Homo sapiens: one gene and its partner. The protein of the gene in region 2 purifies or fractionates together with the protein of the main gene of each other region. This does not show direct contact. Each region holds a gene or a part of one and is shown on either strand. Other genes may lie near its edges.

The links.
Region 1: the proteins of GIGYF2 (region 2) and EXOSC7 purify together in Homo sapiens (affinity purification with mass spectrometry; 2 studies listed by BioGRID). This does not show direct contact.

What each region holds. Positions count from the first base shown.
Region 1 is NC_000003.12:45,007,244-45,012,261, reverse strand, and holds the end of EXOSC7 (exosome complex component RRP42), read right to left. Parts: intron 4,843-5,018; coding exon 4,687-4,842; intron 1,028-4,686; coding exon 923-1,027; 3' UTR 791-922; downstream 1-790. UniProt on the Homo sapiens protein: Non-catalytic component of the RNA exosome complex which has 3'->5' exoribonuclease activity and participates in a multitude of cellular RNA processing and degradation events.
Region 2 is NC_000002.12:232,854,058-232,861,122, forward strand, and holds the end of GIGYF2 (GRB10-interacting GYF protein 2), read left to right. Parts: intron 1-2,735; coding exon 2,736-2,803; 3' UTR 2,804-6,548; downstream 6,549-7,065. UniProt on the Homo sapiens protein: Key component of the 4EHP-GYF2 complex, a multiprotein complex that acts as a repressor of translation initiation. In the 4EHP-GYF2 complex, acts as a factor that bridges EIF4E2 to ZFP36/TTP, linking translation repression with mRNA decay.

The DNA of each region.
Region 1 (5,018 bases), on a different chromosome or scaffold from region 2:
AATGCCACGGTTGAAACGCTCTCCTTCGTGAATCAGCTCCTTCCCCAGGGTGTTTTAAGATTTAGGAGTTTCAGTTCCCCTAGAAAAAAAAACAAAGGCTGCTCTACACATGAAGAGACTTAATTTTAACACACTGCACAGTGAGACTACAGGCTTATAGGAAGAGCCTTCTGGGCCAGCAAGCATAGTCTTCCTTTCAATGCTGAGAGCATGAAGGCAGCTGAATTATCAAATGACAACATCTTGAAAGCTGCCTTCTTAATGCTGACAAAACAAAATCTTAGGAAACACCAGGGAGTGGTTATAAAACACAAAGCAATTTCAAAACAAGAGTGATAAGAAAGGATGGCTAAGGGCCAAAGTGGCTGCCACTAAAGCCCCTGAACCTAGGGAATTCCATTCGGATCTCTTGGAGGGCAGGAAGTCAGAGCTGGACTTTCCCAGGATTTGGGATGGCTAACCAGACAGACAGACGCCCTGGGTGTGTACCTGCAGCAGAGTGCCTCCTCTTTTTTCCTCTCCCAGAACCACCCAAATACACAAGGTGAATGAACTTTTCTTTGTGATTCTTATTTTTAAAGTTCTTCAAGGGGAAAAAAATTCACAAAATACATATCATAAGCATTTCCTGTAAACCAGTTTCTGTCAGGTCTTTACTCCAGCTTGTGGGGGTCTCCCTTGGTGGCAGAGCTCTGGATTTGTCTGCCACTCACTAGATAAGGGCCAGACCCAGATGGGTCACTGAATGGTGCCTTGGCTTCAACTGAAGAACTCTAGACATACCAAACCAGACCAGAAAATAGCCTTTAATTTTACATGTACAAATGCTGCTGTAAATTCGTAACAGCGAAGAAAAATATATACGAACCGGTTTAAAAGGAAAAGTAAAAAACAATCCACAGTTGAGCAGTTGATGTGCAAATCATCCCAGGAATCCAACTTTCTGTCTCTTGGGCCCCAGGCTTTCTTCCTTGTGCACAACACTCTGCAAGGAGGCATGCAGTACCTTGCCCACACGCTTGCCAGTCTGTGGAGAAGGGACGGGAGAGAGCACACACCCCCTTGTAAGGCACACACACTCTGACCAGAAAAGCATTCCTTTCTGCCAGCTAGTCTTTCTGACATTGTACACATTCCATCTGCCTTAGAGGACTTTTATTTAATTAAAGCAAATTAAAACAAAAACCACAGACCCCAACAACATAATAAATTTTGTAAAAATCGTCATATCAAAAAAATAAAAAAGAGAGACAAACACCAGCCCCCACCAGGCAACAAACAGAGAGCAGCAAAGCCTGCCCTGGCCATTAGCTCATGCTTCACTATCCTGCTGCCACTGCAACAAGCAACAAAGTTGTCAATCAAATCTGGGCTTGGGTACAGCCAGGTGACACTGTACTATAGGGAGACCACAGGGAATCCAGAGTCTGTCTGGAGAAGAAACAGATGATGCCAAGGACATTTTAGTAAGCAGCTTCTCATTCACCTCCCATGAAGCCTCTAAGCAGAACTGCTCAGGTGTGACCAAAGTCAGTACCTGGATGGGATCTTTGGTGTTTACTGCCATGCTGAGATGCTAAAGGCAGTGAAATGTTAGAATCGAAACACATCAAGAGGGACAACCCACAAAATTAATAATCAGTCCCTACAGAGCAGACACGAGAGGTAAAAAAAACAAAAACAAAAACAAAACAAAACAAAAAAACTCAATATGGCTGGGAGTAGTGGCTCATGCTTGTAATCCCAGCACTTTTGGAGGCCAAGGCAAGAGGATTTTGCTTGAGGCCAGGAGATCAAGACCAGACTGGGCAACAGAGTGAAACCCCATCTCTACAAAAAACTAAAAATTAGCTGTGCATGGTGGTATGCGCCTGTAGACCCAGCTACTCAGGGGGCTGAGATGGGAGGATTGTTTGAGCCCAGGAGTTCACGGCTGCAGTGAGCTGTGACTGTGCCACTGTACTCCAGCCTGGATAACAGAGCAAGACCCTGTCTCAAAAAACAACCACCACCCCAATATAAAAAAATATATTTTTCTTTATGAAACTGTTATTCTGTCTCTGGGCCCAAGAATCATTTTAAGAATACAAAGAACCAACCACAAATCTCTACCTTATCAGGTCTTTCACATTCCCATAGCAGTGTGGATTCAACTCTGCCACTGGTTCCATTCTCAACAATGTTGAGATAAAAACATCCATGCCTAAATCCCTGCCTCAATCTCTTCAGTTACAGGTGTATCCTCCCCAGAGTAATGACTTGTGTGTCTTCTCCCCTGGCCCCTAACTGTAACATGGGATGAGATCCCAAGTATGACTAAAACTCTTATGAAAAGATGATTTCGATCTAAAAGGCTGGGAAGTGATCACCTCTATGAAATGCAAAGTCAGGGTTAAAGGTCAAAAAGGCCTTCGGGGGCTGGATGTGGTGGCTGATGCCTGTAATCTCAACACTTTGGGAGGCTGAGGCAGGCAGATCACAAGGTCAGGAGTTCAAGACCAGCCTGGCAAACATACTGAAACCCCGTCTCTACTAAAAATACAAAAAAATTAACTGGGAGTGGTGGCGGGCACCTGCAATCCCAGCTACTCGGGAAGCTGAGGCAGAATCACTTGAACCAGGGAGGCGGAGGTTGCAGTGAGCTGAGATCGCACCACTGCACTCCAGCCTGGGCGATAGTGTGAGACTCCATCTCAAAAAAAAAAAGGGCCTTTGGAAAGATTTTCCCATAACATTAGAAAAAGAAAAAAAAGTCTGAATCTGTCAAACAGGGGTACTGATTATTCATATACATGAGGGTGGGGAGAGAGGACAACAAGAGGAGATGAGATGGACAGGATGCCAGGACTTGAGAGGGCCTTGACGCCTCTGAATCCAGATGCAGGAAAGCAACTGCAGAGGCTAGGGGTGGCAGCCTGCACAACTACCCCCAAGGCTCTCAGCTCCACCAAGTCATTTTCCAGATTGCTGCATCCCTGTGTGAGATAAACAGTAAGACAGGGCCACAGAGCTATAGTCCCCTGTCCAGAGTTAGCAGACCTCACTCCCCAAACCTGAGGGGAGGACAAAGCTCAGCTCACTGAACAGAGCTCTGGTTCTGCCATCTATGACAGCCAGGGCAGATCTGGTTTATAAGGCTGACATTGCACAGTGGCTGGGAGCAGGGGCTCTGGACGCACACAGTCTTGGCTTAAATCCTAGCTCCAGTATTTATGAGCAGGGAGGCCTGTAGGCAAGCTGCTTATCCTCTGTGTGCCTCAGTTTCCTCATCTGTAAAAATGAGGACAATAATAATAGTTACCTCACAGGTTGTTGAGGACTAAATGATATATTTAAAGCAGTGAAAACAGTATCTGGCACATAGTACGCACACAATAAACTCCAGCTATTTGTTTACTGTGCTTGTTGTTGCTGTTTAAAGAAATTCTCATAAACTCTCCTGGGAGGGGGAAGAGTACCTTCTAAAACAAGGTTTGACAGTCCCTTGCCTAGAGGACTTTGGTAGAATTTATGCAGCATTAAGTCTGGAGAAATTTGAACTCAGGGTGCTTCATGGAGCACAGAGAATAAGAGCTGCCATTAGCTGAGAACTGATGACATATCAGGCACTGTGACATGTGCTTCTCCTCTACACCTCACATCATCCTAATAACAACCTCAGCAGTGTCTGGGCAGATATTACTATTATCAGTCCCACTTTGCAGATGAGGGGGACTATGGCCCAGAGCCAGGTTTGCAGCCAGGGCAGTACACCCTCACAGCCCATGGTTGGGAACTCCATGCTATATACAGTGCTCATTTTGGCCTTTTAAATAACATGATAAAGAGAGAAAGTAGATGTCATGTTCTTGGATTCTTCAGTATGAAGTCATTGTTTCTAAACACAAAAGAAGAGTGCTTGCTATTAAGCAATGATCTCTGGGCATGTGTGGTGATATAGAGGTTGCAAGAAAGTATGAATAATCAGATCCTGCTAACTCTGTTCCTGGAAGTTCAGTCAGTCAATCAGTCAGAAAGGTGAGGTGGATATAGGGGAAAGAAGGTCTGGGAAACAGGTGAGCAGGACCCTGTCCCTGCCCTGCGGGGCTTCCAGGCCAGTGAGGTGACAGACATGTGGGGCAAACAGTACAGAGAACTGTAGAAGCGCCTTGATGGCTCTGCTAGGGATGAGGGCAACCCAACCCAACTCCAGTGGGTCAGATTTCTTACCATCCCTGCTTGTCTCCATTTAAACACTTCTAGAGCTGTAACGAATTTGGGAGACAGCCACAGTTCAGCCCGTGCTTCCACCTTTACTCACCCACTTCTAGGGACAGGAAGCAGTGAGCCAAGAATTCTATTCCCTCATCAAGTCACAAAGGCCTGCACTTTTGGAGTTACGAGTGGCTCTTTACATTATGAAAGTCCAACAGTCTTATTTAGACACATAGAAATGAGATGGGGGGTACTTACTGAGGACAATTAATGGTTACTGGTAGGCTCCTTACCTCCCAGTCCAGAGTATCCACCCCCACAACCCCCCTTGATTAGGTCAGCAGACCCCTGGCTCAAACCAGCTGTTCCCAAATCTCCAAGTTTGGGGTCAAGGCTGTGAATGGGGAGAATCCCCACGGTATGACCAAGGGAGCAGGAAGCAGCAGGCACCCCGGCCAGGTCCCTGCACCTTCCTCAGAACTAAGGCCTCACCTCCATCATCTCGAAGATGCTCTCTGGGTCCAGGCTGCCCTTCCCCACTTTCCTCATGCACGTCACAACTCCCTTGCTGGTCACCGACACCAGCAAGCTGGCCAGCGAGCAGGCCTCCTCCTGAAGAGTAGCATCCACCACATGCCGATAGCCAATCTGCAAAGGCAGGGTGCGTGGCACACGGTGGGTCACGCAGGCCCCAGAGTCCCACCCCTGATGGCCTCGTGGTGGGAATCTCTACACCAGGCAAAAGTATTTGCACTGGTCATTCCAGGTCTTATTTTAGATTCTGCTCACGAGGAAAACAGCTGAGGGATTGTTCAACAATTCTC
Region 2 (7,065 bases):
TATTGCCTTTTATCACATTTTATCTGTTCTTAAGATACACGTGAAGTCAATGAAAAATCTGCCTCAGAATAAAGTAGTATTTTATTTCATAGACTGGCCTTTAGGTTCTTGTACTTGCCTAATTAACTGTTACTTTAAAAACATAAACATTAGGGTCAGGCACGGTGACTCATGACTGTAATCCCAGCACTTTGGGAGGCCAGCGTGGGCGGATTGCTTGAATCCAGGAGTTGGGGACCAGCCTGGGCTACATGCCAAAACCTTGTCTCTACAAAAATTACAAGAATTACTTGGGTGTGGTGGCACCCGCTTATAGTCCCAGCTACTGGGGAGGCTGAGGTGGGAGGATCGCTTCAGCCTGGGAGGTGGAAGTTGCAGTGAGCCAAGATCACACCACTGCACTCCAGCCTGGGCGACAGAGTGAGACCTTGTCTTTAAAAATACATATATATGTATATATATATAAACACTAAGGCTGTCACTATTTTCAAGGGGGAAGAAAAAGACTTGTGGGTTATTGGAACACAGTTGATGGGGTCAAACTCAGGATGGGGTTTGGAATCCTAGCCTCTCCCTATATTTGGTCTTGTAAGCAGTTGGTACCACAGCTTTTTTGGTTAATAAATAGGCATGTTTATTTTTTTGAATCATGATATTTTTGAGTCAGTTAATTAAGGTATTTTATGTAAGGCATTTTTGTTTATTACTGTTACATTTCAAATGTGTATTTATTTGAAAACTTGAACATGAAAAAACAAGAGGCTGCAGAAAACCCAGCTAATATTAACAGAACTGCTTTTAGAATAAGGACATTGCCTGTTTACTTTTTGGTATTCAAATAACTAAAACAGTTTGGGATTTTATTCAAGGTAGAAGAACTGGAACATTTTTGGGGAGTCACTCAGTTTAAAGAGGCATTGTTCATCATTTTTATCAACCTCCAATTATAGAAGTTTTGGAAAAATTACATACATGTGACCATTGGGCATTCGGCATTAGGTTTTCTTTTTTTCTTTTTCTTTCTTTTTTTTTTTTTTTTTTTTTTTTGAGACAAGGTCTCACTCTGTTGCCCAGGCTGGAGTGCAGTGATGTTATCTCAGCTCACTAAAATCTCTGCCTCCTGGGTTCAAGCAATTCTTGTGCCTCAGCTTCCCGAGTAGCTGGGATTACAGGCGTGCAGCGCCACGCCCAGCTAATGTTTTGTATTTTGAGTAGCGACAGGTTTTTGCCATGTTGGCCAGTCTGGTCTCTAACTCCTGGCCTCAAGTAATCCACCCACCTCGGCCTCCAGTGTGCCCAGCCAGCATTAGGTTTTCAGCTGTCAGTTGTGTTTGTGAGTACTGCTTATTGCCTTCAATGGGTATGCTAGTACTGCTTTTTCTAAGCCAAATTCCCTTTTGGTTAATCAAACATTGCTAACTGAAATCTTTTCCTTTGCAGATATATTTACAGTAGATCGAGTTAGAGTACTTTAATCTTCTTGCTCTGTCTACTGTGGGAAAGAGAATATGCGAGGACTCTAAGGATCTTAATAGTGTGTCTTCCATGGAGCCTCTTACCCTGAGTATCAAAAGCTCTGGGCCAGAACTTTCATAAAGTTTTTGACTGGTGGGAAGAAGTATTCCCATTAAAGTGGGTTGAGGTTTAAAGGGGTATTAATCCCACTCAGATTTCAAAGTTATGTGGTCAAGTAGTTACAAAGAACTTAGTGTATACAACCCTCCATGGTAACCCCCCTGCCCACCCCCATCTCTTTTAAGGTAGACCTCCTGCATGAACTTTCCTCCAGGGCCAGCCCAGCCTGTCCTTGATACACACTCACATCCCATTCTTTTCTCTGATTCTCTGAAGCAGTGGTTTGCAGGGGGTTTTTTTGTTTTGTTTTTTTTTTGAGACAGAGTCTCGCTCTGTCACCCAGGCTGGAGTGCAGTGGCGCGATCTCGGCTCACTGCAAGCTCCTTCGACCAGGTTCAAGCAATTCTTCTGCCTCAGCCTCCCGAGTAGCTGGGACTACAGGTGCCCACCACCACACCTAGCTAATGTTTTTTTGTATTTTTAGTAGAGACGAGGTTTCACTATGTTAGCCAGGATGGTCTCGATATCCTGACCTCATGATCCGCCTGCCTTGGCCTCCCAAAGTGCTGAGATTAAGGCATGAGCCACCACACCCGGCCTGCAGTTCTTTTTAATTGGTGATGCTATTTTGTTTTATTTTCCTTCCTAATTAGGTTATATCAGAACCTTAAGAAAATAAAAAATCTCTCTCATTGGAAGAACAGAAAGCTACTGCTGTGACCTTTATCTTTGTCTCCCTGTAATACTTCTATGGTATGCTCAAAAACAAAAGACTGGCCAGGCACGTTGGCTGACGCCTGTAATCCCAGCAATTTGGGAGGCCGAGGCGGGCGGATCATTTGAGGTCAGGAGTTCAAGACCAGACTGGCCAACATGGTGAAACCCTATCTCTACTAAAAATACAAAAAAAATGAGACGGGCATGGTGGCATGTGTCTGTAATCCAGCTACTTGGGAGTCTACGGCATGAGAATCTCTTGAACCCAGGAGGTGGAGCTTGCTGTGAGCCGAGATCACGCCACTGCACTCCAGCCTGGGTGACAGAGTGAAACCCTGTCTCACAAACAAACAAACACAGACTTACATTCCAGCTCACCGCCTAGAATTTGAGCCGCTTGGTTGCCTGGGTGTGGTCACTCATAGCCAGTTTTTTTTCTGCAGGATTTTCAGTCAATGCATCATCGGAGCGACTCAACATGGGTGAAATCGAGACGTTGGATGACTACTGAGCACCTGCCAGTGGACTGGCCATCCCTCTCCTGTCTGCCGACTATGGAGTCTCCACCTTTGGACACAACACTTACTCACCATTTACTCTTTATCACTCTGCAACAAATCACAGAACCGATCATCTCAGGCTTTTTCTTCTGGCCCTTTGTGTCCAAGATTCTTTAATCCATTTTTGTTGGTGAACATCTCAGACTATAGATAAGTGGACTGGACCCTGTGTCTTGGGGGTGGCAGTTGGGATTACTCCCCAACAAGGCTGATTTTAGGCAGCATGTGTTCACTGTGCTGTGATTTCATCTACTGTCTCCCAGAAAGTGTGTTGGGATCGGCCATTAGCAGCTTGCTTTCTCTTGTCACTTTTTTTCTTCTATTTTGTTTTTTCTTCTTCTTTTTCCCCCCATCAGGGCAAATGGTCTAACTGGTGCAATCATGAAGAGAGTTAATGGTTAACAGACATTGGCCAATAACAAAACACCCCATGGACTGTGACTCGAGTATCCAACAGGCAGTCAGAGCTCTCCCGGTCTGAAAGTTGCATTGCCACTGCTAACTTTGGGATTGCATCAGAGAGGCCCTGAGTGGGGTTGAGATGAGGTTGGTTTGGTTTGATGTTACACACTCCTCACCTGTTCTTTCTGAGTGTCCTTTCTCTGAAAGGATTTATGTTTTTCTTCGTTAGATAGTGACTTCTGAGCAAGCTGATCTCCCCTGGCATGCTCCAACCTGATTGGACAAAGGAAGCTCTATGGCCTGGGAGAGAGACTATTCTTAATTTTTCTTTCTTACAAAAACTGATTTTTCCCATAAATATTTTTACTTCAGAGGACTAGGACCATTTTGTTTTGGGCCCTTCTGCTGAAAATTTGTCTCGTTTAAGAGGCAGCTAGAATCTTTACCATATGTATGAATTTGTATAATTTCATTTTTGGATAGGGATAAACTTTTGCTTCTGATAAAAGCCTGGAATTTCATCTGGTCCTCAGAGCATTGCGTGTGTGTCTTGCTGTAGCCCGGAAAAGGTTTTGTGTAAAGATTCTGGGATGGCAAGTTGTTTGCCTTTTCTGAAAAGAGAACATACAGAACCTGTCCATCTTTAAGACCTTCATCCATGGAATCTACTATACAGGAGGATGCAGTGGGCTGGAGGGGATGGGCGAAAATGGGAGCAGGAAGCCTGGCCTGGCTTCTGGTCATGGCCTCCTAAAACCTTAAACTTCAAGTAGAAATGTACTCAAGCCCTATTTATAAACAAATACTTTTCCTGCCTCCACCAAACCCCTACAGAACATCACCTGGAATTGCCACTCACACTGGGTTGGAGTCATTGGGCAGCTGTGCCTGTGCGAGAGGTGCTGTGGTCTGGGCAGCCCCTGGAAAAGCACCTTTGCTGCCTGTCATTGTTGCCTGAAGAAGGCTGGAGTTGCTCTGAGAGCAGTTTGGGTTTGGAGTATTATATTTGGCTTCTATTTTTATTATTTTGGATCACCATTCTCCCTATCCCTTCTTGCCTCCCTCCCTTCTAAACATGTGTAATAACTATACAGAGACTGCTACAAAATTGTATATAGTTTTTGGATCAAATAGCATGAGGGGAGAGGAAACCATTAAAAGTTGGGGCTCCTACTCTCCTTTGCTTTGTAAATTCAAAAGTTGGGGGTGGGTAAGAGGGATAGTTAAAATGTTTACAAAACTTTAGGCTCCCTCGGAACTTTTGCCAGTGTGGAGGAAAATAAAAAAGAACTTAAATAAAATCTGATTGTATTCTATCTGAGTGCACCTCTTGTACTCACCTTTATGGAGGCTGAGTTCTGCACTAAACTGTTCCTCTTGGTACCATGGAAAAGCTCCAAGCACCCAAGACATGGAGGCAGCCATGGCTTCTTTCTCTGCCAGACCACGTAGCACTGGCTGGTTCTGTATTTGAGAATGTAGAGGTCAAGGCAGATGTCGGTAAGTTTGACCAAATATCTTTTCTCTTTTTGACTCTCCCTTTCTGCTAACATGTGGATCAGCTCCTGCCCTCATACCGCAGACACACCCACTCTGAACACACCCCTCCAGAGCTTGCCCACACCTTCCCAACTAGACTCTGTGTGTGTATTCAGGAAAAATGAAAATAAATTTTTAAAAATTGGGAGTGGAATGGGCAGATTAGGGGGAACAAAGTCATTTTGGTCATGGAACATCCATTTGCTTAACCAAGGAGACTTGCTTCTATCTGAGGAATTTCCCACTTAGTAGAAAGAAACACTCTTCCCTGGGAATGTTTGTTTCTGTCTCTCTCAATGCTACTCTCTTTCATATTCTCATTTGCTCACCCTTTCACTTAGAGCCACCGTTTTCTCATCCCATTCTATGAACTTATTTCCAAATTCTCCTAACTATTCCTGAGTTTTGAAGTATTTGTTTTGTACCCTCTCTGCTTCCGGTTTTTTGTTTGGTTGGCTTTTTTGGAGATAGGGTCTTGTGATGTTGCCCACACTGGTCTCGAGCCCCTGGGCTCAAGTGATCCTCCCGCCTCAGCCTCCTAAATATCTAGGACTACAGGTGTGTGCCACCATGCCCAGCTCCAGTTTTGTTGGTTGATTTGTTTAAATTCAGAGATTTAAAAACATCCCAGACAAGACAGTTTGATTATGGAGACTGTCCCCAAGCAGATTGGTGTGCTGGTGGCTGCTGTGCATAACAGATTCCCTCCAGATTGGCTTACAACAGCTACTTCATTCTGTGGGTCAGGAATTTGGATAGGGCTCAGCTGGGTGGTGGTTCTCCTGGGGTATTCTTTGGTTGTGGTCAGATGTCTTCCAGGGCATCATTCCTATGAAGGCTTAATGAATTAGGCAAGCTGTCCAAGATGGCTCACTCGTGTAATGACAGTTGACGTTGGCTGTAGGCTGGGAACTCAGCTGGGTTGATGACTGGAGGAGCTTATGTGTGTCGTCTCCGGAATGGCAGCTTCAGAGGAGTTGAACTTAAGTGGTGATTGGCTTCCCCCAGAGAACCAGGCAGAAGCTGTGTTACCTTTTTGAGCTCTTAGCTCAGGAGTCACATAGAGTCACTTCTGTGACACTGTGTTGCATCAAAGTAGTCACAAACCCACTCAGATTCAAGAGAAGGGAGCATGGCCCTCTCCCTGCAACCCCCTCCCCCCCCGCCTTGATGAAAGGAGTGACAAGGTCACATTGGAGAAGAGCTTGTGGGGTGGGAGATATTATAGCCATTTTTGGGAAATATCTGCATAAAATGAGTTTATGCATACATGAAGGACTTTATTTTCATTGGCTTTAAGTTGAGGGTTTTTGTTTTTGTTTTTGTATTGGAGATGGGTTCTTACTATGTTGCCCAGGCTGGTCTCAAACCCCTGGGCTCAAGTGATCCTGTTGCCTCAGCCTCCCAAGTAGCTGGGACTACAGCTATGTGCCAGTGCACCCAGCTTGTTTTTTTTAAATTTTAGGATAGATAATGGTACTTCTGGCTTTATTTAAATAATTTTTTTAGGGAAACCATTGTATTTATACATGCATATATTTTTATATATACAAATATGTATATAAAAGTATATGTTTTACATTTTCAATATATATATAATATATACATATATGTTATATACGTATATATATTGCACCCTACTTTAAAATTGACTGATAACAAAATTGGTAATTTTGTATAAAATGCCCAACTGTGCATTATTAATAAAAGTATGTGAATGACTCTAATTAAACAGAAGTGATTCTTTGAAATGAACATATTCTGTACTGTCCTTCCAATATGTGACGTAGATCATTTTCAACAGAGTAGCAGGCAAGCGCATTCTACAGAGAGTAAAGTACAATCAGAGCACATTCCAAATGGAAGTTGGCCTTATAGTTAATGAGTTTCTTAGAACAACAAAAGCCCAGCTATGAAGGGTGCCTTTGGTCCTGCGTGAGTTCAGTCTCTGGTGAGGAAGCTGCAATGCTTTCTAAGACTCTGGAGAGTCTGGGAACCTTGAAGCAGCCAGATGCGTGATAGTTATTTGCAGGTGTTGCCTGAGAACGATGGACACGTATAGCTTTTGGTAGTGCTGGTTTTGGACTGGGAACCTAAAACCTTCAAGAGGACAGTTTCCCTCCAAAGAATTAATCAGTGGGAATGTTTTGCAACAAAAGTGTCAACCATAGCAGTGGGGCACCACATGGGAGAAACAGCATATAGATGCTGGCAAGGAAGAAGTGGGCTCTTTACCTAACAGCTGATCTTCGACCTAAAAGTTGTCATTGCG